Linked DNA regions of Homo sapiens. The protein of the gene in region 3 interacts with the protein of the main gene of each other region in a biochemical or structural test. Each region holds a gene or a part of one and is shown on either strand. Other genes may lie near its edges. The genes, in order: FRMPD3, SIPA1L2, SCN4A, SNTG2, HTRA3, ARHGEF11 and GIPC2.

Region 1 (3,500 bases), on a different chromosome or scaffold from region 3:
TAGATTCAACAGCTAGGAAATTTTTGTTAATTGTCCTAAAGAGGGGCTGGCAAAGAGAGGTCTCTCTCTATCCCTCCTCATCTGGCCAGGCCCGCCTACAGTCATTGCAGCTGAGGCCATTTAGCTGAGCTTGTCCTCTCTCCAGCAGCCACGTGGGACTCAAGCCTGGGAGCAACTAGCACTCTCTCCAGACTCTAAGCAAAGAGAAATGCCAGCCCTGGGGGCCAAATACATGGGGGTTGTCCAATGTCAAGGGTGTCCTCACACATGGAAAAGGCAGGCTCTCTCTGACCCCAATCCCTCGTGGTCCCTATTCCTCCCTATTCCTTTTCTGTTGCTGTGTCATTTACCTCTTCTCTTTCTTTTTTCTTCTTTTTTTTTTTTAGAGTCTCACTCTGTCACCCAGGCTGGAGTGCAGTGGTGCAGTATCGGCTCACTGCGACCTCTGCCTCTCAGGTTCAAGCGATTCTCCTGCCTCAGCCTCCTGAGTAGCTGAGACTACAGGTGTGCACCAGCCCACCCAGTTAATTTTTGTATTTTTAGTAGAGACAGGTTTTCACCATGTTGGCCAGGCTGATCTCGAACTCCTGACCTCAAGTAATCTGCCCACCTCGGCCTCCAAAAGTGCTGGGATTACAGGTGTGAGCCACCACGCCCAGCTCTCTTCTCTTTTTTTAAGGTGTATGTATATGGAGGGACATATGTGTGACTATGGGTATGTGTCTGACATGTGTTTGTCTACAAGATGGACATACATGTGTTTATAACAGGGAACAGCATGCATGTTGTACGGTTTTCCTGTGAACTAATACTTAGTTACAATAGCTACCACTTACTGAGGCCTTACTGTGTGCTAGGCAGTGCTTACATGCTTTGCATGAATGATCTCATTCAATCCTTGTGACAACCCCATGTGATAGAACTACTTTTATAAAACCCATTTAAGATGATGGAATGAGGTTCAGAGAGAGTAAGTGCCTTGCCAAAGGTTACACTGACAATGATTGAAGAAACCAGGACTTCGGTGCATCTGATTCAGAGCCCATGTTCTTAGGCAGGATAAAGACCTCAGCCATGAGCAGTGATGGCCCTTGGCTCCCCTGGTCCCAGGTCACTAGGTAGTGAGTTGGTCGTTTTCCTTTTCTTTCAATCATGTGCATGCTGGATGTTCTGTTCTTCACCTGTCTTCTACATCTCTCACAGTTTTTCTCTGATCCTCTATCCTGGCCTGCATCCATAGCTGTCATGACCCCAATCCCTGGGATCTATCTGTAAGGCATTTCCAAAGAGATGCAATGACGAGAGCCAGAACTCTAGCTAGAGCTGAGCAGCTGCTCCCTGCTGTAACATCATTGCTCCTCTGACCCTATCTAAAGAACCTTTGGTACATCCACTGCCCTGACATACCTCAGTGACTCTGACACCTATTTGGGAAGACACAATGTTACCTACTGGCCCTTGTTGGACAAGAGAAGGGGGTGGAAAGAGGGAGAAGGAATCGGTCATTACCTGCAGTCTGTGGGGGTGGTGGGTGTGGTCCATCCTCGGATGCAGCCAGGGCTTCTAGAGCCTGCAGAGTGGACACCAGGGCATCATCTAGCTCCTGGGCATGATCTCGAACTGTCCGGGTCTGCACACTGTCAATCAATGTCACTGGAATCTCATCGTACAGAAGCCCACGCAGGTGGCGTCCTTGTTCCTGGCTCTGGACAGCCCGGCGCTTGGGGTCATCCTCATCAGAGCTGTTGTCTCGGAAACCAGGGGGTGGGGCAGCAATGGCTGGCAACAGAGAAGTTGTCTCATCTTCCTCCTCCTCCTCCTCCTCACTCCCAGGTGGTGGGAGGGACATCAAATCTACTATATTGTCACGAGAGGAGCCAGGCTTCCCACCTTTGCGAGGGCCCAGCTGCTCCTGAAGTTTGGCTTTGCAAGAGTCACAGTAGAAATTCAGGGCTTCAGCCCCAAGGGAATTGTCCAAGGTGTAGGACCGGGCCCTGCTGGCACAAGGCTCGTGGTCTAGGCTAGCTGCATCAAAGTCATCAGGGACTACCTCATAACCTTGGCCAGAGCTTTTGGATGTGGGGTCAGACTTGGTTCGGGGCCTGGTCTCCTCAAAGAAGATTAGGTTCTCGTTGACATCTGTCCGGCTTTCCTGCTCCTTCCTTTGTTCCCGCATATGGAGGTAGCAGAAGCTGACAAGCTCAGAGTCGGCAGGTGGGGGCGTGCAGCGGCTCGATTTCCTGGGGCTGGTGCCCACGCTGCCCACATAACTACTCTCCTTTTTCCCCAGGTGGCCCCCAGTGACAGGGCGGTGGGCGCTGTGCATGTAATCTAAACCCAGAAAGAGAATCAACAGATGAGCCCTGGTGCCAAGGATTGTGAATGAGCTCCCTTGTTGTCTCTGGCCCATGTCTCTGTAGCACAATCAAGTGGCAGGTCCCAAGACAAAGCATTACCTGGCTGCCAAAGATTAGAGGTAGGGAAGTTGATGAGCTATGTTACTGCTGACCCTGAAAGTAGAGTGAATAGAGTCTAATAACCTGAGCTGCTAATAGCCCCATCACCTCTGAAATGGGAAAAGGCATGGGGTATGGTAGGGGTCGGGGTGAACACCCTGGTTTAGGGCCTGGTATCTGGGCACAGCTGGACTCTTACATGGATACCCTCTATCTGAAAGTCAGCTGTAAACGTATGTCCCACTTGGAACTGTTCCTACCCCTGTCCCCACCCCTTTTCAGAGCTTTTCCACCAGTGCTCTGTTGTTCTTGTTATCTTGAATCTCTTCTAGCAGAAGGAAATAAATCTGACAAGTTACTAATGCTTTAGTCAGAACCTGTTAAACAGGCTACATATAATGCCGAAGAGTTTGCATTTCAAAGAGGCCTGTTGATGGAGGGATCCTAAAAGAATAAGGCTCTATATTAGAATTCCGGGGTCTGAATGTGTAAAGTATATGGGAGATATGCTGGGATGTGCATATGTGGGAGGAGGGCAGGGGAAGCATTCTTATAATTCTTCAAATTTTATTCTTTTCTGCATTCATGCAGGGCCAGCCCTACCTGCTACACATACATATGGCAAATGCTCTCGTCAACCGCTCTTAATGATGGTAGGTGTGTGCATCTGAGAATTATCTATAGCAAATGCTTTATCTGTGAATACCTTCTCTCACTGTTTTTGGAGCTCTTCCCCATTTTATCTGTGAGAATATACTCGGACAGCAGACAGACAGATAACAAACAAGCACTAACTTAGGCTAAGGTCCTAATATACATGATCCTACTTATTCTTCATAACAACCCAATGAGGTAGTTATTATCATTATTCACATTTTAAGGATAAAGAAACTGACTCACCTAAGGTTACATAGACCAAGTGGTAGACTGGATTTCCGCCTAGGTCTGAAAGACTTCAAAACCCATGTTTTTAGCCATTACCCTTATAACTCATCATGGTGGTCAAGATGCTGGAAAACAAGCCTTCAAAATGCCACTCAAACT
Region 2 (3,500 bases), on a different chromosome or scaffold from region 3:
ACAGAGTGACCTCCTAAGGTCTGTGTTACCCACCCTCCCCAACCCACTCCAATAAAACAAACTACAGTCAAAAATTACACAAATATTCTCAAGACAGAAACCAATACTGATGAAATTAAAATCTAAAACCATAAAAACCCTAGAAGAAAACCTGGGCAATACCATTCAGGACATAGGCATGGGCAAAGACTTCATGACTAAAACAGCAAAAGCAATGACAACAGAAGCCAAAAATGACAAATGGGATCTAATTAAACTAAAGAGCTTCTACACAGCAAAAGAAACTATCATCAGAGGCAACAGGCAACCTACAGAATGGGAGAAAATTTTTGCAATCTGTCCATCTGACAAAGGGCTAATATCCAGAATCTACAAGGAACTGAAACAAATTTACAAGAACAAAACAACCCCATCAAAAAGTGGGCAAAGGATATGAACAGACACTTCTCAAAAGAAGACATTTATGCGGCCAACAAACATATGAAAAAAGCTCATCATCACTGGTCATTAAAGAAATGCAAATCAAAACCTCAATGAGATACCATCTCACGCCAATTAGAATGGCGATCATTAAAGTCAGGAAACAACAGATGCTGGAGAGGATGTGGACAAATAGGAACATTTTTACACTGTTGGTGGGAGTGTAAATTAGTTCAGCTATTGTGGAAGACAGTGTGGCGATTCCTCAAGGATCTAGAACCAGAAATACCATTTGACCCAGCAATGTCATTACTGGGTATATACCCAAAGGATTATAAATCATTCTACTATAAAGGCACATGCACACATATGTTTATTGCAGCACTATTTACAATACCAAAGACTTGGAACCAACCCCAATGCCCATCAATGATAGACTAGATAAAGAAACTACCATACATATACACCATGGATACTATGTAGCCATAAAAAAGAATGAGCTCATGTCCTTTGCAGGGACATGGATGAAGCTGGAAACCATCATTCTCAGCAAACTAACACAGGAACAGAAAACCAAACGCTGCATGTTCTCACTCATAAGCAGGAGGGAGAGCTTTAGGACAAACACCTAATGCATTCAGGGCTTAAAACCCAGATGATGGGTTGACAGGTGCAGCAAACCACCATAGCACAAGTATAACTATGTAAAAAACCTGCATGTTCAGAACATGTATCCCAGAACTTAAAGTAAAAAAAAAAATAAATAAATAAAAGTACAGTGAGCTCCCAGCTATCTGTGCTAGAAGCAGAATAGTTTATGCACTGAGAAAAAGGAGGAGGAGAGTAGCGGGGCCCACCCTCTGCCTCCTCAGGCACTCTGTGAGGTTATCCCTGGATCCCTGGGAGCAGGAAGAGGGCTGACGGGTGAAACTGAAGACAGAAAAATATAGCTCTGAAAAGTAAGCTGCACTATAATGAAGGCGTGAAGGACACCAGCTGCACCCAATAAGAAGGTGGTGAGAGGTGCCGGAGTGTTTTCCTCGGCATGTGTTACTGACACATGTGGAACCTGTTTCTCTGTAGGTCTTTAAATCAGAGAAGATTCTCCTAGCCCTGGGATAATTAGGGACACTTATTTAAAGGTTGAGGATTCAACTACATGACCTCTGAAGAATGCATCCTTCAAGCCTGAAGATATACGTAAAGCAAAAACCATTTATTTGACATAGAATTAAATAATTTATCACTTGTGTCTTAACATTTAAGCCCATCTATAGAACTACATGAAAACAAAATTTGTCTGTTGTGGTAATTCAGGCATTCTTTCAACAAAGATTTAACATGTCCAACACATACAGCAATGCTGGAGAAGCAAAGTACAGAAAGATTAGAGAGGTGAGGGAAACACAGAATTTTCCACTGTAAGCAGCATAAGAGATTATTCAGAGGAATAGGAGGAGGACAGAATTAATCAGGGAAGACTTCTTACAAGGGATGAAATCTAAATCAAGTCTGAATTTGTGATGATCACAAATTGGCAGACAAAGAATGACAGAAAGAGAAACCAAAAGGGCATTTACACATTAAGGACTACCCATAAACAAAGGCATGGAATTGCAGTTTTCTAAAGAAAAAATTAGCCTGGAAGCTATGGAGGGACCATGATGGAGAACAAGGTCAGGCCCAGTGGACTATGGCCTTGGACACTCTGAGGAAGGTGCTCCAACACAAAGCAAAACATTGTGACTGGTTCTTAAAAAACTACTCCCGAGACACATGCAAACGCCCATGGCTCTTCCTTACCTTTCCCATAGAAGAATTTGCGGTAATAATAGGCCCCAAGGTCAATGTGTTCTATGATGTAGCGCTTCACTTTCTCCCTGTGAATAGGCTGGTTTTCTCTGGGCACTTCCAAGACGGAGACACCTGCATTTGTGCAGTGAGAGCTGAGTGACGATTCGAAAGAGCAGCTTTCCCCAGAACTGAAAGAGGATGAGTTGGCTCGAGAGAGCGCAATCCGCCTGTCGCCTTCCCCTCCAGTCTCATTTCTAAAGTAAGGACAACTAAGGACGAGGTCGTTACTTTTCCCATCACCCTCATCGGCATCCAGGTTCTCTTTGGAGTTGAGGTCCTCCTTGCTCCCTAAAGGGGACTCACAGTTGCCTGTCTGGCCCGTAGGCATCTGAGTCTGGGATGCTGCAGATGCCCCAGTGGTTATGTTTTTCCTTTTCCCCACATTAGCCCTCGTAGCCATGGCTTCGTTGATATTAAACAAAATGCTCTGGACATCATAATGTGCAAAACATCGCTGACAATTCCAAGGGCGAATGCCCCTCTCCAGTCGGCTCTCCTCCAGCTCAGACGTGAACTTGAAAGTTTCGTGCTCACTTTTAACAGTTCGAAGCTTTCGGAAGAGAGATGTTTCCACCGACTCTGATTTCAACCTCCGTTTGAAAGGCTTGTCCCTGTCTCTCCCCATCAGGAGGGCACTGTCCACATAATCTAATCCTGAGATGCGGACAAATTCTCCCCTAGAAATCTGTGCTGCTGCATGAAGGCTCGGAGAGATTGCAGGGTCACAGCGGAAAAATTCAGGGAACCCAAAAGGGACCATTGCTTTGTGGTCATAATTTTCTACTCGGTACCCTCTGAGCATAGCAAAAAAGTTTTCACCAGATAAGCCTTGCCTGTCGATGGATGAAGTACTTCCATACTCCCTGTGCAGGGCAGCCCCGGTGTTGGGGTTGACTGCATTTTGGTCTAAGACATCTTCGGCATCAATGTCACTGATAGTGACATCACTATTGCTCCTCTGTCTTATGGGGTGAAGTCCTCTTTGGGGGGAATGGACAAAGATGTCTCCGATTGTGTACTTGGCCTCCACGAAGTCCAGATCGAGCTGTTCATCTTGCTGACCTTCACTCTGGTCACTCTGCCCATTCTGCAGGACAGAAGTGATGCTTTCATAACTGGTCTGAGACCGGCTTTCCCACAGTGCCTTGCATGTTAGCTCCTTGGAACAGTCCTTTTTAGGAGGCCATTCAGACACCCTTGCTCTCACACCCATCTTGGGCACAGCT
Region 3 (3,865 bases):
GGCTAAACTTGCCGCATAAGAATATTCTTAGTCACGGGTCCACGTGACCCTGGGCTATCTGGGGTCAGAAGTCAGTCCTGGGGTCAGCGCCTCTGAGGAGAGGGAGAGGCTGTGCTGTGTACCCCACAGGCACCTTGAGGCCTCTGAGATGGGCAGAGAAGTGAAGGGGCCTCTGGGGAGGAGGAGCTGGGGACACAGAGTCCCAACAGGGATCACCTGGAAGAGAGGGAGTGTGGTGCTGCCTGTTGTGGGAGCCAGGTCTTGACCCCTGATCCTATCTGGTCTCTTGGATTCCAGCTAAGGGGCTTTTGTAAGGAGGCTGGAGAGAGCTGGACTGGGCCAGAGCGGGGAGCTGGGGCCTCCTTATCCTGCCTGGCCCCCTGAGAGGCTCCCGTGTCTTCCACGTTTGGCTCCAATCCCCACCGACCCTTTCTGCTTCTCACTGCCCTCAGCCCCCATCCGCATCCACATGCTGACATGCAGAAGGGAGAAGCCACATACCAGAGGCACCAAGGAGGGTTTATTGTAAGAACTGTACAAAGGAGCCCGCCTGCTGGCCTGGCGTGGGACCTGTTCCCCACTGGACCAGGCAGGAATGGGCATCCGTCTGCAGGGGAGGGGCCACAGGCAGGGAGAGGCCGGACCCGGCTCATCTACTCTTCCTCTGCAACCTGCACACAGTCCGAGGAGAATATCCAATCAAACAGATTTCTGAGGCTCCAGGGGCTGTGCCAGCCCAGGGCCCAGGAGGGCAAGGCAGAGGGGCAATGTGCCAGGAAGGGGAGACTGCCCCCATTAGACGAAACTTCTGAAGGAAGAGATGGAAGGAGTGGAGGCCTCCTTCCATAGAGGAGACATAGGCAGGAGGCAGGGAGCAGGGCTGAGGCCATGGGTGTGACAACGAGAAACAGGAAGGGGAGGAGAGGGGAGTGAGAGAGAGGGCTGTTCAGGCAGGACTGGGAGCAGGTGAGAGAGCATGGTGGACAATAAAGACAACTCTGGCCCATAGGCATGGCATGTAGATGTGCACACACACACACGTGTTCACACACTCAAGCACACATACATGTCTTGTTTTGAAGGTTTTGCTGCTTCCTGAATTTTAATCAAACTTTTCATGAGAAACAAGAAGAAAAAGAAGAGGCACTTAGGCCAACAGAATGCCCTGAGTACACACCTTACCACATGCGTTCACACGCATCCACACACTCACAGCACAGGTCCACTCTCCCAGGCACGGGAACACTCCCAGGGACAGGCCTGCACAGTATGACACACCAGCCGTACTCCATGGACCTTGAAACAGTCCAGGGCACACATATATACACATATATACAAAGATACCCAGACACGTGCATAATGCAGGCTCCAGTACACAGTGGTTCACACACACACATACAGTCACGCACTTGAACACACACACAGCTATACACACAGGCCTATAAAAGCATACAAGCAGACACACAGCCACAGGTACACACACAAGTGAATAAATCCAGCGACGCCTGAGCAGGTCTCTCACCCCTCCTCCTGAGCCAGCAGAGGCCTGGCCCTGCCATGCCCAGAACAGCGATGCAGCAGAAGTGCTTCTTCAGGCCACAGGAAGTTGGAAGGTTGAGCCTGAACCAGTTGGGCCTTCCCTGCTGCACGCCCCAGGGTCGAAATATCTAACCTGAGCTCAACTGTACATTCTTAGGATCACTTTGGGGAGAGAGGTGGGAAAGGTGAGAAAGAGACGGGCGTGGGGAGATGAGAAGGGAGATCTCTGAGGCTGGATGAGGCTCCTGGAGCCCTGGTGGTGCTCACGGAGGAGTGAGGCAGGGAGAGAGGGAAGGGGCGAGAATCTTCTTACTGAGCAGCAGGTCCCTGACTCCCGCTCAGGTCTGGATGCTCAGGCCATGTGCAGCGATCCAGCTGGCAGGACCCAGCCTGTCTCACTCCCCCGTGCTTCCTAGAAAAGGACAATTCATTCCCAAGTGGCATCCTTCCTTCTGCTCTTCCCCTAGGAGCCAGCCAGGGGAGCTACGGACCTGGACGTGGCCTAGGAAGAGGTTTCAGGAGTCACCATCCCAGCCCAAAGCAGCAGGATCCAGTGGCCAATCAGGTTTTGAGGCTTTGAGGAGCTATTTCTGAACCAGTCACATTTCCCTTTTCCAGGGAATTCCTGAGCTGGCCTGGTGGGTGAAGCTGCACCCCAGAGTCAAAGGGGGTGGGCTGGCAGTGCCCTGGGGTTAGGTGTCTGCACTCCCTGAGGTTAAGACATCTTTGTCTGGGCTGGGGCTGAGGGGTCTGAGCCACTTCCTGGGGAGAGGCCAGTGACCCTTAAGACTCTGGTGATGGGGGGCAACTGATCCCTCCACCGCAGGCCAGCTCCTCCTCAAGTGAGGGGCAGAGATTCGAATGTTCTGACCTCCCCCAGGCCAAAAGGAGGGGCGACAGGGCCCAGAGGAGGTCAGAGCAACTTGCAGGTTAAATCTTGGAGGCAGGGGCCTCAGACCCAGCATGGAGCCCCTGAGCGCAATTCCCATTTCCCATGGTCTGGGAACGCAGGCGCTCGGGCCTGGGTGTCAGCCCCAGTGTGGCCAAATCCTGTCCCCCATCAGGGAGCCAGGCACAGTCCCAGATTCAAAGCCCTCCTCCCTCACTCTGTGTGCAGGCACCACGGGGGAGCTCTGGGGACTATGCCGAGACTCAGTGGGCCACCCCGATGCTGCCTGCTAGACAAGAGACTCCTTGACACCTGGGCGCACAGTCTGCCCTGGGGGAGGGGCGGGAGGCCAGGCAGTGTCTGAGGGGCTGATGGGCATCAGCCCCATAGTGGGTCCGGCGTCCCCTGCCTCGCCCTTCTCCTCCGGGCTTGGCGAGCTGCTGTTCCCATTCTCGTGGCCATACATCTTGCTCATGGTGTTGGCAAGCAGCCCCTCCTTCTCAGGGGCGTCATCCCCGCTGCCGTCGTGGCTGTGGCGGTACATGTAGGATGCCTGCTTCATGGAGCGCTGTAGCAGGTGCCGGCGGTAGGCCCTCTGGATCTTGATGGCGCACACCTCCTCGTGCTTCCTCTTGAGGGTGGTGGTGATGGGCTCGTAGGACACCTTGGAGGGGTTGGCTGCCATGAACTTCTCCTCCATGGTCTGCTTGAGGGCGTCCATTTCCCCAGAGTCACCCAGGACCTCTTTGGTCAGGGCAAAGAGGATGTCCAGGCAGTGGATCTTGTCCCCTGGCACCATGGGCAAGTCCAGTGTGATGAGCTTGATCTTGTTGGGCTTGGCAATCCTCAGCGGTTCCTGCAGGGTGTCCACGAAGTCTGAGAGGCGGCTGTAGGCGATGAACTGGGTGGCGTCGGGGTCGAACTTCTCCCATGTCTCGTAGAACATCTCAAAGTCATCTTCACCAAGGGGCTCGCTGCTCTCCTCTGTGGCCACATTGAAGTTCTCCAGGATGATGGCGATGTACATGTTGACCACGATGAGGAAGGAGATGATGATATAGCTGCAGAAGAAGCAGATGCCGATGGAGGGGTTGCCGCAGTCACCCTTGACACTGGTGCCCGGGTTCTCCAGGTTGGGGTCACAGTCTGGGGGCCCGCTGTTGAGGATGGGGTTGAGGAGCCCGTCCCAGCCGGCCGACGTGGTGATCTCGAACAGGCAGATGATGCTGTTGCCGAAGGTCTCGAAGTTGAACATATCATCGATGCCCGACTCCTTCTTGACGTAGGCAAAGTTGGACATGCCGAAGATGGAGTAGATGAACATGACCAGGAAGAGGAGGAGGCCGATGTTGAAGAGGGCAGGCAGCGACATCATGAGGGCGAACAGCAGCGTCCGGATGCCCTTGGCCCCGCGGATCAGCCGCAGGACACGCCCAA
Region 4 (3,500 bases), on a different chromosome or scaffold from region 3:
TTTTTTCTCTTTCATTAGAATGCTGCCTTTCTGTAGTAATATTGAGAAACATTTTACTTTGTCCATATCTTCTTTCCATTTAACAATATTACCAAAAACAAGCAAACAAAGAAACTAAAGCTCAATTTATTCAACCAAAAATGGTTATTTATCTTCATTTCTTTACATTTAAGGGCACTGAACAAATTCTATCCCATTTTTCCCATAGGAAAAAAAAAAGTACATTAAATGATTGAAAGAAGTTATCTGTATTCATTTTCTATCGATGCTTAACAAATTAACACAAATATAGTAGATTAGAGACACACATTTATCCTCTTACAGTTCTCTAAGAACTTGTCTCTTAGGGCTAAAATCAAGGTGTTGGCTGCTTTCTCCTGCAGCCTCTGGGGGACAGTCTGTTTTCTTGGCTTTCCCAGCATCTGGAGGCTTTGCCCTTGTGCTCTGAGCTCACCTGTGCCAGAAAGCTCCAGCCACCGCAGCTTTGGAAGCATGCCTCCCTCTCTGCCCTCAGAGTGGAGGATCTTGTATGAAGCCTGGATCACCAGCCCAGCCTGTTCAGGAGAGCTCTCTCTGGGGTGTGTTCCTTCCAGCAGCACAGCTTAGAAGGAAGGTATAGGGTGGAAGTTCAAAAGGATCAAGATATTTTTATTTCCAGAAGGTTATTGGACTCTTTGTGCACTGGCACCTGCCACAACAAGTGAGGGGAAGCTCCTTGCCTTTTCTATTTCCCTTATATTTGTGTGACTAAAAGAGGCTACTCTAGTGTTTTTAATTTCCTTTTCTTAAAAACACAAACAAACAAAAAAAAAGTCTGTCCCTAGGGGATTTTCTTTCCTTCTCACTCAGACAGAAGCAGCAAACATACGGTGTCTGATTTCACCCCCCTACATCCAGCATCATACACAGATGAGCAAACCCTTCACTCAGGAAGGGGATGAGTGATTTTTCTTTCAATATTTGTAGAGATGGAGTCTCTAAATAAGAGAGCAGTGTCTGCTTGGCCTACCATTGGAGCCTGATTCTGCATAACGATTCCAGTCACCTGCGTGTCCCAGTGGTTTTTTGTCTTACTTAAGAGAGTTCTTTTGGAGATCCCACCCACAGGCTCTGACCTTATGGAATATTCAAAGCTGATGCAGTCCCCAGCGCTGTCTCTTCCATTCCACTAGCATCCATCAACTCAGTCAGCTCAGACACAGCCCTGAGCAGTAAACTGCGTCCTTGGGGCCTTTGGTCCAAGCCTCAGTGCTTTTTCTAGCTTTGCCTTCTGTGCTTCAGCCACTGGATTCAGATTCCATTGTCCCATCTGTGGGGGCCAACGTGAAGCTTTAAATAAACATGTAAACATCTTTTATTTGTTACAGCCTGTGACATTATGATTACATCATTCTCCACCAACAATAAGAAAATTTACATTACAATGATTTGTCCCATTGAGTGTGTAGCACGAAATTCTCATGGAATTTAATAAATGGTCATCAAGTTGACCCATTTAAAAAAAAAAACTCACAGAATTTTGAAAACCACAGCATGGCAAATCATTATTGGAGACAGACAGTGCAATTAACACAGTGAGGTGGCTGAGAAGTTCCACAATAGCAAAAGTATCCCGCCTTCTTCAATCTACTTTTCTCCAAATCTATGCAAACAAAGAGTGTTTAAAAAATATAACTTTTTAATATCAAACACATTTTGGGAAATGCTGCTGTGTTGATACCATCACATTTCAGTAAAACTTCCATGAAAGTCACCGACGCTGAGCATTTCAGTAGAACTTCCACGAAGGTCACCGATGCTGAGCATTTCAGTAGAACTTCCATGAAAGTCACCGACGCTGAGCATTTCAGTAGAACTTCTGTGAAGGTCACCGATGCTGAGCATTTCAGTAGAACTTCCATGAAGGTCACCGATGCTGAGCATTTCAGTAGAACTTCCATGAAGGTCACCGATGCTGAGCATTTCAGTAGAACTTCCATGAAAGTCACGGATGCTGAGCATTTCAGTAGAACTTCCATGAAAGTCACCAACGCTGAGCATTTCAGTAGAACTTCCATGAAGGTCACCAACGCTGAGCATTTCAGTAGAACTTCCATGAAGGTCACCAACGCTGAGCATTTCAGTAGAACTTCCATGAAAGTCACTGATGCTGAGCATTTCAGTAGAACTTCCATGAAAGTCATTGATGCTGAGCATTTCAGTAGAACTTCCATGAGAGTCACTGAGGCTGAGCATTTCAGTAGAACTTCCATGAAAGTCACTGATGCTGAGCATTTCAGTAGAACTTCCACGAAGGTCACCGACCCTGAGCATTTCAGTAGAACTTCCATGAGATACACCGATGCTGAGCATTTCAGTAGAACTTCCACGAAGGTCACCAACACTGAGTGTTTCAGTAGAACTTCCGTGAAAGTCACCGACGCTAAGCATTTCAATAGAACTTCCATGAAGGTCACCGACACTGAGCATTTCAGTAGAACTTCCGTGAAAGTCACCGACGCTGAGCATTTCAATAGAACTTCTGTGAAGGTCACCAACGCTGAGCATTTCAGTAGAACTTCCACAAAGGTCACTAACGCTGAGCATTTCAGTAGAACTTCCATGAAGGTCACCGATGCTGAGCATTTCAGTAGAACTTCCACGAAGGTCACCGACGCTGAGCATTTCAGTAGAACTTCCGTGAAAGTCACCAATGCTGAGCATTTCAATAGAACTTCCATGAAGGTCACCGACACTGAGCATTTCAGTAGAGCTTCCATGAAGGTCACCGACACTGAGCATTTCAGTAGAACTTCCATGAAAGTCACCAACGCTGAGCATTTCAGTAGAACTTCCGTGAAGGTCACCGACGCTGAGCATTTCAGTAGAACTTCCGTGAAAGTCACCGACGCTGAGCATTTCAATAGAACTTCCACGAAGGTCACCGACGCTGAGCATTTCAATAGAACTTCCGTGAAAGTCACCGATGCTGAGCATTTCAGTAGAACTTCCATGGAAGTTACCAATGCTGAGCATTTCAGTAGAACTTCCATGAAAGTCACCAACGCTGAGCATTTCAGTAGAACTTCCACGAAGGTCACCGATGCTGAGCATTTCAGTAGAACTTCCACGAAAATGACTGACACTGAGCATTTCAGTAGAATTTCCATGGAAGTCACCAACGCTGAGCATTTCAGTAGAACTTCCATGAAAGTCACCGATGCTGAGCATTTCCATAGAACTTCCATGAAAGTGACCGGCGCTGAGATGGAATGACTCCTGTGAAACCCTCACAAAATGGACCCCCCCCATGAAAGAGGAACCATGAATATTTACCTGATAACAAGAAGTACCACAAAAGACCCTGGCAACACCACAAGCTGCACAAAGACCACTGCAACCTTGTGCAAAGACAAGTCTTCTATGAGGACACAAGCTCCCCTTGCTATTGATCCTTGTAGCCAAGGATAACGGTTTCAAAACAACTTCTGTAACCTCCTCACTTTGCCTTTAAGCTTTCC
Region 5 (3,423 bases), on a different chromosome or scaffold from region 3:
CTTTCCAGCCTGGTGGATGAGCTGAAGGCCAGCAACCCGGACTTCCCAGAGGTCAGCAGTGGAATTTATGTGCAAGAGGTTGCGCCGAATTCACCTTCTCAGAGGTAGGCTCTGCCAGAGGAGATCGCTCGAGGCATGGGGCAGGCGTGAGGTCTGGGCTGGGGCTGCCCCACTGACCTCATGTGACCTTGAGCTTCCCAGCAAAGTGACCGGGAAGGGGCAGGTGGATTCTAGCGTGTCTGCTAAGCCAGAGGAGGCTGGAGAGCTGAATGGTCCCTAGAGCCCTGACTGTGTACGTCCTAAGTCCCACAATGTCATTTCCTTCGAGAAGCAGAGGCTGAAGAGTCCCTGTTGGGCTAAGAACCCACTCCAAGCCAGACTCTTTCACTAGCTGGGGACCAGCCTGGGTCCTGGGTCTTTCTGGGACTCAGCTTCCTCATTGTAAAGTGGAGATAATTCAGCCTATTGTTTTTTTTTTTTTTTTTTTTTTTTTTTTTTTGAGACAGTCTCCCTCTTGTTGCCCAGCCTGGAGTGCAGTGTCGCGATCTCAGCTCACTGCAACCTCTGCCTCCTGGGCTCAAGCGACTCTCCTGCCTCAGCCTTCTGAGTAGCTCAGATTACAAGTGCCCACCACCATGCCCTGCTAATTGTTTTTGTATTTTTAGTAGAGAAGGGGTTTCACCACGTTGGCCAGGCTAGTCTTGAACTGCTGACCTCAGGCGATCCACCTGCCTTGGCCTCCCAAAGTGCTGGGATTTCTACCCCCAGGAGACTTTGTAGATGAAATGGATAAAGGATTGCTTTCTTTGAAGTCTTCCAGTACTAGAGAAATGTTAAGCATTGCAACACCATAGGCTGAGGCAGGCGTGCAGCGACACTACCACATGCTGGCATGGCTGACCCACTCCCAAGAAGGGCTCTGAACCAGTTGCCTCCCCTCCTTAGCCTCGGTCTTCATCTGCAGTGGGAAAAATCCACATATAAGTGGACCCACACAGTTCAGACCCATGTTGTTCAAGGGCCGACTGTACTGTGCATCCTCAGAGGCTGGGCTTGAAGGTGGGAGGCCCCGCGTGAACTTCTGTGATGAGCACAGATGGCACACTTGTCCTGCCCGCAGCAGGCCTGCAGTAAAAATTGTTGAAATTGGGTGAAATTTTCCACACACATCTCAGTTAATCCTCACTGCAGCCAGGGAGGTGCAGGCTCCTGCCCTCACCCATTTTACAGGTGGAGGGACTGAGGTTTAGAGAAGTTACTCTTCCAGGTCACACAGCTGGCATGTGAGGGTCCTGATGCTGGTGCCCACGCAGCTGAGCACAGTACCATCACCTTCCTTCCCAGCAGTGGGGAGGTCTCAGTGAGCCTCATGCAGAGAGAAGGCTGGCCCCGTGAGCTCTGCCTCCCACATAGACGTCTTCGTAACTGCAGTAACAGCAGAACCTACTCCTGGGCCTTTATAATTTGCAAAGTGCGTTTCCACATAGGATGGTAGACATGAAAACTGAGGCACAAGGGGACAGAGTGCCTGGCCCAGCTAGGAGGGCTGCAGCGGGAGCTTGAACCCACCCTTCTGACGCATGGGAGAAGCAGTTTGAAAGGTTGTTTCCCTGTCGTGTGACATTGGTTTTCTTCTGGTGTGAGAGCTTTGGGGCTGGGGCACTGTTCTTTCCCATCGAGATGACTTTTGTTGAAATGTTGTCATTGACCCTGACTGTGCCTCGCTCTGGGCCGGGCCTGGGAAGGCTGTGCCTGGGGAGGCGGTGGGTGGTGACCCCGTCTCTCCTGTTGGCAGAGGCGGCATCCAAGATGGTGACATCATCGTCAAGGTCAACGGGCGTCCTCTAGTGGACTCGAGTGAGCTGCAGGAGGCCGTGCTGACCGAGTCTCCTCTCCTACTGGAGGTGCGGCGGGGGAACGACGACCTCCTCTTCAGCATCGCACCTGAGGTGGTCATGTGAGGGGCGCATTCCTCCAGCGCCAAGCGTCAGAGCCTGCAGACAACGGAGGGCAGCGCCCCCCCGAGATCAGGACGAAGGACCACCGTCGGTCCTCAGCAGGGCGGCAGCCTCCTCCTGGCTGTCCGGGGCAGAGCGGAGGCTGGGCTTGGCCAGGGGCCCGAATTTCCGCCTGGGGAGTGTTGGATCCACATCCCGGTGCCGGGGAGGGAAGCCCAACATCCCCTTGTACAGATGATCCTGAAAGTCACTTCCAAGTTCTCCGGATATTCACAAAACTGCCTTCCATGGAGGTCCCCTCCTCTCCTAGCTTCCCGCCTCTGCCCCTGTGAACACCCATCTGCAGTATCCCCTGCTCCTGCCCCTCCTACTGCAGGTCTGGGCTGCCAAGCTTCTTCCCCCCTGACAAACGCCCACCTGACCTGAGGCCCCAGCTTCCCTCTGCCCTAGGACTTACCAAGCTGTAGGGCCAGGGCTGCTGCCTGCCAGCCTGGGGTCCCTGGAGGACAGGTCACATCTGATCCCTTTGGGGTGCGGGGGTGGGGTCCAGCCCAGAGCAGGCACTGAGTGAATGCCCCCTGGCTGCGGAGCTGAGCCCCGCCCTGCCATGAGGTTTTCCTCCCCAGGCAGGCAGGAGGCCGCGGGGAGCACGTGGAAAGTTGGCTGCTGCCTGGGGAAGCTTCTCCTCCCCAAGGCGGCCATGGGGCAGCCTGCAGAGGACAGTGGACGTGGAGCTGCGGGGTGTGAGGACTGAGCCGGCTTCCCCTTCCCACGCAGCTCTGGGATGCAGCAGCCGCTCGCATGGAAGTGCCGCCCAGAGGCATGCAGGCTGCTGGGCACCACCCCCTCATCCAGGGAACGAGTGTGTCTCAAGGGGCATTTGTGAGCTTTGCTGTAAATGGATTCCCAGTGTTGCTTGTACTGTATGTTTCTCTACTGTATGGAAAATAAAGTTTACAAGCACACGGTTCTCAGCCAGCAGGGCACTGGGGCAGCCTACCCACCACTGGCCAGGGTTCTTCCTGGGGACCCATCTAACACATGACTGGGCATACCTGCAAAGACACGGGCCTTTAAAGGGTTTCTATGACAGCTGAGCACTGGGGCACACCAGGTCTCGGGGTCATGTGGCGCTGTGGAGGGCCAGCTCCGAGTCAGGCAGCCCGGCTCAAGTCCTGGCTCCTCCGCTTACTTCCGGCTTCGTGGTCTTGGGCAAGAGATGTTCCCCTCCCTACCTTGGCCTCTGCCTCTGTCCAGCAGGAAGGCTGGCTCTGCTGTGCTGACCTCCTGGATGCCCTGGGATGCAAGGTGACAGATGCAGCACTTGGGAAGCCACCCGGCTTACGGGGAGCTCCCACTAAGCCCCACTGTGCACGTCTGGTCACATGAAGAACCCTTTCTCACATCTATTTCACCCTCCCTGCCACCCATCCAGCGATGGGGAAACTGAGGCAGAGAGCAATTT
Region 6 (3,500 bases), on a different chromosome or scaffold from region 3:
CATTCCCTCCACAGGTCTCTTGAGAACCCAACCCCTCCATTCACTCCCAAAATGGGCCGCAGGTAAGTGATGGGCACGGTGGTGCCTCTGTTTGGTGTCTCTGTGTCCCATCCACACCCAGCTGCTCCTCTCACCTGCAAGGGGCTGGTTGGGTGGCTGTCTCCTCTTCTGGGCCCACTGGTTTCCCATGTGCATGGGGCAAGCAGGTCGGGCAGGAGAGGGAGGGCCAAACCCTCTGTGTGAGTTCTTCCTCCTAAATGAAGCTGAGCTGCCTGTTTTCCCCCAGGAGCATTGAGTCCCCCAGTTTGGGGTTCTGCACAGATACCCTCCTTCCCCACCTCCTAGAGGATGATCTGGGCCAGCTGTCTGACCTGGAGCCAGAGCCAGATGCCCAAAATTGGCAGCATACAGTGGGCAAGGATGTGGTGGCTGGGCTAACCCAGCGGGAGATTGACCGGCAAGAGGTCATCAATGGTGAGAACGTGCTCCACTGCCCCCAGCTCCGCTCACACGTGTGGGAATAGGTCCAGAATGCCTAAGACACAAGGGTGGGAAAGAGGTAAATAGGGTGGGGGGCCCCTGTGTGCTGGAGCAGGTCCACATTGCCTGTTGCTATAAGGTTCCCCTCAGTTCTGGCCCTTGGAGTAAGAGAAAAGTTGCTGTATGATCTGAAACTGGCACTTCAGTTCCCCCAAAAATAGAGTGGTGTGGGAACCAGGTCAGGGACTCTAGATACTTGCTGATCCGTTTTCTCCCTGGCTTTCTACCCTCCTTGTCACAACCACCGCTCAGAGCTGTTTGTGACTGAAGCTTCCCACCTGCGCACACTCCGGGTCCTGGACCTGATCTTCTACCAGCGAATGAAGAAGGAGAACCTGATGCCCCGGGAGGAGCTGGCCCGGCTCTTCCCGAACCTGCCTGAACTCATAGAGATTCACAGTAAGGAGCCTGTGCCCCTCCAGACTCCTCTTCTGCTGCCCTTCAGCTTCCTGTTCCACTTTGGCCCCACTGCCAGGACCTCCCTGAGTAGGTAACCTCCCACCAATCCCTGGTGAGAAAAAGATCTGTGGACAGCCTGAAACCAGCACTGGAGTTCACCCCGAAAGTACAATGGTTTCCAGACCCTTCCCATGGCACTGCTGTCAGAGATTCACTTCTCTCTGTCAGAAAGGTTCTGGCAGTTGAGCTCAACCCCAGGCATTTCTATTTGTTCTCTTCCTGCCCCAGATTCCTGGTGTGAAGCCATGAAGAAGCTCCGGGAGGAAGGCCCCATCATCAAAGAGATCAGTGACCTCATGCTGGCCCGGGTATGGCTCCAAACTTCTCCCTCTTGGCAAGGAGGAGATTGGGGGAGGCAGGGTCTCATTACCCAAGGCCAGAGAATTTGGCAAAGGCAGGGGTCTGGTCCCAGGCAGGGGTTTGATGCCTGGCCCCGTGTCCATTCTGCCTCTTCAGTTTGATGGCCCTGCCCGAGAGGAACTCCAGCAAGTGGCTGCACAGTTCTGTTCCTATCAGTCAATAGCCCTAGAGCTAATCAAGACCAAGCAACGCAAGGAGAGTCGATTCCAGCTCTTCATGCAGGTGCGTCCTTGGCCATGCCTTGGCCTTCCTTCATCTCCATCAAGGTCACCAAGGATCTCCTGAACTTCTCTCCTTCTGGCCACATCATCCCTGTCTACAGCAACTCCCTCTACCCTTCGACACACGCTCCTCAAAAGCACTGACTCACTCTAGACAAAGAGACTTCTGTTTGTTGGAAAGAATCCTGGATTAGCAGTCAGAGGCCTGGCTCACCCACCAGCACCTGTGTGTCCTGAGATGGATCTCAGTTTCCTTGTCTATAGAATGGCAGCAATATGCCTGCCCTTCTGTTTTGACCATATCCCTTTGGATTGGTGTCTCCCTGCCACCACACACCCTTCTCTACATCTTTAAGGAAGAAGCTTCCACTGCCATTTCTGAGTGATCCATCTGGCGTTAGGACCTGTTTGTCATGTTCACACCCATCTTGGCCCTGAGCCCATAAGCCAGCTCCCAGCCACGCTGACATCTCCTCCCTTCTGTGTCTCCTGCTGTCTAGGAGGCTGAGAGCCACCCTCAGTGTCGGCGGCTGCAGCTGAGAGACCTCATCATCTCTGAGATGCAGCGGCTCACCAAGTACCCGCTGCTGCTGGAGAGCATCATCAAGCACACAGAGGGTAGCACCTGGGGAGGGGCTGGCATCACAGGCAGTGGGCCTCGTGCCAGACCCTCATTCTGACACTGCTTTGTGACCTTAGCAAGTCACTGTGCCTTGTGGTCTTTGGTGTCTTCGTCCTTTTTCTGTTGTGGGGTGTTTCAGAGAAGAAAATGATTGTAAATGTCCTTTGGAAAATATAAGGTGTTTAATAGTGGGAGGAGTAGGGGCCACCATCGAAGGCCACCTGTGTGGGCCTTTGTGCAAATCCAAGGAAAGCATCCGGTGCCCAACACAGGCTGGCACTCAAGGGCACCTGGGTCCCTCTGGTTGCATGGGGCTGGATTTTATCCCCATTCATGCCCCCTGCAGTGCACAAAAGACACAGCCTATGTGGTTACACTAGAGGGGCAGGGGACCAGACTGAACAAGAGGGTCTAGCCTCAGGTTATCACTCTCCCTGGGATCCTGGGCATCTTTCACTACCCCCAAATTTCAGACATTGGAGTCAGGACAGAGAGGTGTTAGGAACCCCAATCTGATTTGAACAGGCTTTCTAGAGGCATAATTGTGGCCATTTACCACAGTCTCTGTCCCTTGCATCTGTAGAGCTGGTTGTAGTAGAGGCAGGGATTCCCAGGAGCTATCAGCGTCTTCAAAGCAGTGATCTGTCTGAGACCTGAAGATGCTCAGTAAAAGTTACCCTTACCACTTGGGGTCCTCATGTGAGGCAAGGGTGGCTCCCCTCCACCCACGCCTGCTGGTTTGAAGCAAGCCAGCTGCCATGGATGAATAGGCAGATAACAGCTGGCGCCATGTTGGACTTCTCAGGCAGGAGCCCCAACCATCTCTTCTGTCCATTTTGGTAGGTGGCACCTCTGAGCATGAGAAGCTGTGCCGGGCCCGGGACCAGTGCCGGGAGATTCTCAAGTATGTGAATGAAGCGGTAAAACAAACAGAGAACCGCCACCGTTTAGAGGGCTACCAGAAACGCCTGGATGCCACCGCCCTGGAGAGGGCCAGCAACCCCCTGGCAGCAGAGTTCAAGGTAGGAGGCAGAGGCTGCAGCAGTCAACCCCTCACACTTTGTGGGTACCCTTAGGAGCAGAACACTGGTCAGGGCTTGGAGAGTCTTAGAGGTAGGAGACAGAGACCAGATAGGGTGGCACAATGGAGCCCCAGAAGACACACACCCTGCTATTGTCACCCTGTCCCTAGATGGACAAGGCAGGCCGCCCCACCTAAGAAAGACTAGATGTTGGAACTCAGCCTGAGAGAGCAGGGGATGGGGTAGAACTGGAGGTAAGGTGGAGATCTTCTGGGA
Region 7 (3,959 bases), on a different chromosome or scaffold from region 3:
GAAAACTTGGGTAACAATATAGCTTCATGGGAGGAAAAAAAAAAGATGGGCACAATGGCTCCGTGTCTGTGTTATTCAAGAGACTGAGGTAGGAGGATCACTTGAGAGTAGGAGTTTCAAACCACACTGAGCAACACAGAAAAACCACATCTCTAAAAAAAAGTTTTTTTAATTAGCCAGATGTGGTGGCACATGCCTGTAGTCCCAGCTACTTGGGAGGGTGAAGCAGGAGGATTGCTTGAGCCTAGGAGTTTGAAGCTATAGTGAGCTATAATCGCACCACTGCAGTCCAGCCTGGGCAACAGAGTGAGACCCCATCTCATTAAAAAAAAAAGAAAAGAAAAACAGAAAACAAAAAAAAAGAATACACTGAATTCAAATCCAGGCTCTGCCACTTGCTATGTGTAATTCTGGAAAAATTCTGAACCTCAAAGTCTGTTTCCTCTCTGTGAAGTGGGGATATTAATAATAATACTTACTTCTTAGGGATTAAGTAGATTGAATAAAATCATGTACCTTGAGCTCAGAATAATGTCATATATAATGATGAGAAGTGTTAATGCAAAATACACATGCTCCTCTACTTACCAAGGTGTTATGTCCCAATAAATCCATTGTGAGTCAAAAATATCATAAGTCAAAAATGCATTTAATACCCCAATAAACCCATAAAGTGGAAAAATCTTAAGTCCAGGAAGTTACATCCTAATAAATCCATGGCGAAGTCAAAAATCTTAAGTCTAACTATCATAAACCCAGGACCATCTGTAACTAAAACTGAAGTCCCTGGTTACAGCAAAGACATTTAAAGTTGTCAGTTAAGTATGCTAACAAGCTCACTAGCTTAGGAATCAGAAGATCCAAGTTTAAATTACAGTCAAGTTTTTTTTTGCTAGGTATGTGACCTTGGCTAAGGGCCAATCACTTTGTACTTCAGTCCTTCATTTAACTGTTAGGTATTAATCATATTAGTTACCATGTATTAAGCCCTAACCATAAACTATGCAATCTGATACGTTTACATACGGACTCCACTCTTCACAATACTCTTCAAGACAAATATTCTAATCTCTATTTTACAGATGGCGAAAACTGAGAGAAGTTAAACTCATTCAAGTCCACACAGCTAGTAAAGGGTAGAACCTGGCTCCATGTCCAAGTTATCGTATTTAACCTGCCACCTGCCTCCCCTAGAGATCAAAGGAAAGTGTCCTGTGAAAGTGTTTTTTGAAAAAAAAAAAATCCTATATAAATGTGAAGTATTATTAGTATCCTATATCAATACAAATAATTCACAGATGGGTTTGCGATTTGCCCCTTAGTGCCTGGGAACTTCGAAAGAACAAAGGGTTACACTTTAAGCTCTCTTTCGTCTCCTCTTGGAATTTTGCCTTGACCTCAATTTCCCTTGAACAGACCTGATAAACAACTAATTAAAGAACTCCAGGTGCCGCTGTAGGCCTCAAAGACAGCTCTCTGCACTCCTCTGAGTCCAGGGCAACAAAATTATATGCTTTTCCTAGAAATGTGGACAAAATATTTTGTTGAGCTAACTTTTCACACCTACCTTTGCAGTTCACTTGGGTTAGCACAAATAAAGTGGTCACATAAACGTTCACATAAACTAGTGCTTTAGGTCATGCCTGTGTCAAACTTAGTTCCAGGCCCCCATGAAATCTAATTAAAGCAAATTTCAGTCCCTTTTTAAGGATACGATGTAAAAGAGCTGATCTTCCTCATGAAAATTTTGTTAACTAGTCCCACGTGATTAAGTATGAATCTCTAGGTTATCCACTCTTGGAATAACAGCCCAGCTTTTTAAACTTCTTGGAAATACCACCAAAGGGTTTCTGGTGCTGATGTTAGAAATGACAGATTGGGGGAAAGTGGGCCTCCGTTTGGTATTACCTGGAAGGCTCTTCAATGTTTTCCCCCCCACTTAATCTGGGTATCACCTGCAAGGCACTTCTATTTTTTTTTTCCCCCGTTAATCTAGGGAGATGACCTGCGTGACTCTCACGCCTGCGGAGGAAACAGGAGAGTAAAGTCCAGATGAAGTGGAGGGTATTAATCTGCCCCGCCAGATCTCGAGTCTGGGAAGGTGCTCACGCCTTGAACGGCCGGCGGAATCCGGGACATCTGGAGCAAACACATTTGCAAGCGGAAGAAAGGTTGCCTCCCTCAACCCGCTTCCCAAAGGCCAGATCTCGGAGCAAGGGGGACTGTGACTTTCTGCGGTCCTGCCAAGTTAAATTTTCCCTTCCAGGGAAGGCACACTCACTTTCCCCCGGGACGCCCCCGGCGGACTCAACACGGCATCGGATTTCGCGCTCCGGGAAACGCCGCTCAACCCTCCTGGGCCCACAGAAATACGCGCGGCGCGGCGCGGCGCGGCGGAGAGGCGGGAGAGCCTGAGCACCTGGCGCCTTACCTCCGACGGCGAGATTTCAAACGCGCCCGCGATCTGGGCGTAGAGCTCCTGGATGCTGGAGAAGCCCTCCACTCGGCCCGTGGCACTACCGTGCGCCAGCTGCGCGTGGAAGACCAGCCTGCGTGCGGGAGCCCGGGACGCTGAGAGGCTCCCGCCGCCCGCGCCCGTCGGCTCGCCCTCCACCAGCCCGGCGGTCTCCTTGGACTTGGCCTTCTTCTTCCCCCGCAGCTTCAGGGGCATCTTGCAGGGCCGAGAGCGCGGGCCCACCTGCGCTGCCGTCCGCCGCCTCCTCCCCCCGGCGCCTCGGACTTTGCGCCCCGGGCCCCGCGCAGGTAAAAGCAGCCTCCAATGGCAGCCGCGCTTCCGCCTGGCTGCGTCGGGTCAGGGCCCCGACCTCCACCCCTGGACCGGAGCAGCCGCCCGCCCGCCCAGCCTCCCCCGGGATGGATCTGGAGAGAAAGAAAGTTACGTAGTCCCTCATCCTATCACCAGGTTTATCCCTACTCCTTGTAAAAAATGGCTCTATTTACGTGAACGCCTGAGGATGCCGACGCTACAGAACAATACGCCTTAGAAGGCAAACACGCTGGCCCTTCTCTGCTTTTCATAAATCTGTAGTAGGCACCCACGCATGATTTGGCCACAGGCCTTCGGGTCCGTACGTCTGGACTTTCGGGGATAGGGATTTAAGTAGAAGTCAACCTTCGTCTGCATTTTCTGCGTCTTACGCTCTGCAGGGCAGAATTGGAAGAGAAAGTCACATAACCTTGAGCTTGGTGCTACGTTGTATTCATAAACCCCCTCAGCCGGGTCCTTGGCACCTCTGAGTTTCCCTTTTGCCTATTTCCTGGGCTGCTTCCTCTCCCAACATTCAGCACGCCTCCAAAGCCATTTGCCCCAGCTCTGCCCTTCTTAGTCTCTACAGAGGACCTTGCCTCATATAGTACAAAGAAAATTGAGGCCATTCGGTGTGAAGTGTGAGTTCCCTCAATTCCCTACCTCGCGTTTATTGCATTGTTTTCAAGTCCAGTCCCCTCCAACTACGCTTTTTACAACAAAGCAAAACAGTCTTGAATTATTAGCTACGAAATTTCCTCACTTCTCTGCTCTTAGAAGCACTGTGATCAGACTTTGCCCCCACACTACTGAAATTTCACTTACTATGCAATTTCAGTGGAGTGAAATCACTATCATATCTTAATTACCAAATACAAGTAATTCTTTTAGGTTTTTATCTTACTTGGTCTGCGTTGCCCATTTCATTCTTCTTAAATTTTGTCCTCTTTTGGCTTCCTTACCTCTCCTCTCCCCGTCCCCACCCTGCTCCTTGCTAACTGCTAGTCTCCAGGAGTTGCATTCACCGACAGTTTTTCCTCGACAAACTTCCCTTCTTACTTAGCTTTGCATGTTCTTCCTGTATGGTCACATCAACATTCTCGGTTTCACAGACGTTGTTGTCTACCAAATGTCTCCAACTCCAGCTTATTCTACCAGAAAGGGAATGTACTGTAGGAAACCCAAATTGAGA

The links.
Region 1: the proteins of SCN4A (region 3) and FRMPD3 interact in a test that uses a peptide from one of them, tested with the Homo sapiens proteins (one large-scale study listed by IntAct).
Region 2: the proteins of SCN4A (region 3) and SIPA1L2 interact in a test that uses a peptide from one of them, tested with the Homo sapiens proteins (one large-scale study listed by IntAct).
Region 4: the proteins of SCN4A (region 3) and SNTG2 interact in a test that uses a peptide from one of them, tested with the Homo sapiens proteins (one large-scale study listed by IntAct).
Region 5: the proteins of SCN4A (region 3) and HTRA3 interact in a test that uses a peptide from one of them, tested with the Homo sapiens proteins (one large-scale study listed by IntAct).
Region 6: the proteins of SCN4A (region 3) and ARHGEF11 interact in a test that uses a peptide from one of them, tested with the Homo sapiens proteins (one large-scale study listed by IntAct).
Region 7: the proteins of SCN4A (region 3) and GIPC2 interact in a test that uses a peptide from one of them, tested with the Homo sapiens proteins (one large-scale study listed by IntAct).

Annotation. Positions count from the first base shown.
Region 1 is NC_000023.11:107,596,152-107,599,651, reverse strand, and holds part of FRMPD3 (FERM and PDZ domain-containing protein 3), read right to left. Parts: intron 2,332-3,500; coding exon 1,510-2,331; intron 1-1,509.
Region 2 is NC_000001.11:232,511,634-232,515,133, forward strand, and holds part of SIPA1L2 (signal-induced proliferation-associated 1-like protein 2), read right to left. Parts: coding exon 2,224-3,500; intron 1-2,223.
Region 3 is NC_000017.11:63,938,054-63,941,918, forward strand, and holds the end of SCN4A (sodium channel protein type 4 subunit alpha), read right to left. Parts: coding exon 2,718-3,865; 3' UTR 501-2,717; downstream 1-500. UniProt on the Homo sapiens protein: Pore-forming subunit of Nav1.4, a voltage-gated sodium (Nav) channel that directly mediates the depolarizing phase of action potentials in excitable membranes.
Region 4 is NC_000002.12:1,359,849-1,363,348, forward strand, and holds part of SNTG2 (gamma-2-syntrophin), read left to right. Parts: intron 1-3,500. UniProt on the Homo sapiens protein: Adapter protein that binds to and probably organizes the subcellular localization of a variety of proteins. May link various receptors to the actin cytoskeleton and the dystrophin glycoprotein complex.
Region 5 is NC_000004.12:8,304,176-8,307,598, forward strand, and holds the end of HTRA3 (serine protease HTRA3 isoform 1 precursor), read left to right. Parts: intron 1-8; coding exon 9-104; intron 105-1,795; coding exon 1,796-1,961; 3' UTR 1,962-2,923; downstream 2,924-3,423. UniProt on the Homo sapiens protein: Serine protease that cleaves beta-casein/CSN2 as well as several extracellular matrix (ECM) proteoglycans such as decorin/DCN, biglycan/BGN and fibronectin/FN1.
Region 6 is NC_000001.11:156,944,743-156,948,242, reverse strand, and holds part of ARHGEF11 (rho guanine nucleotide exchange factor 11), read left to right. Parts: intron 1-14; coding exon 15-62; intron 63-286; coding exon 287-474; intron 475-792; coding exon 793-939; intron 940-1,227; coding exon 1,228-1,307; intron 1,308-1,455; coding exon 1,456-1,581; intron 1,582-2,080; coding exon 2,081-2,198; intron 2,199-3,045; coding exon 3,046-3,224; intron 3,225-3,500. UniProt on the Homo sapiens protein: May play a role in the regulation of RhoA GTPase by guanine nucleotide-binding alpha-12 (GNA12) and alpha-13 (GNA13). Acts as guanine nucleotide exchange factor (GEF) for RhoA GTPase and may act as GTPase-activating protein (GAP) for GNA12 and GNA13.
Region 7 is NC_000001.11:78,044,807-78,048,765, reverse strand, and holds the start of GIPC2 (PDZ domain-containing protein GIPC2), read right to left. Parts: upstream 2,801-3,959; 5' UTR 2,672-2,800; coding exon 2,432-2,671; coding exon of another isoform or gene 2,282-2,431; intron 1-2,281.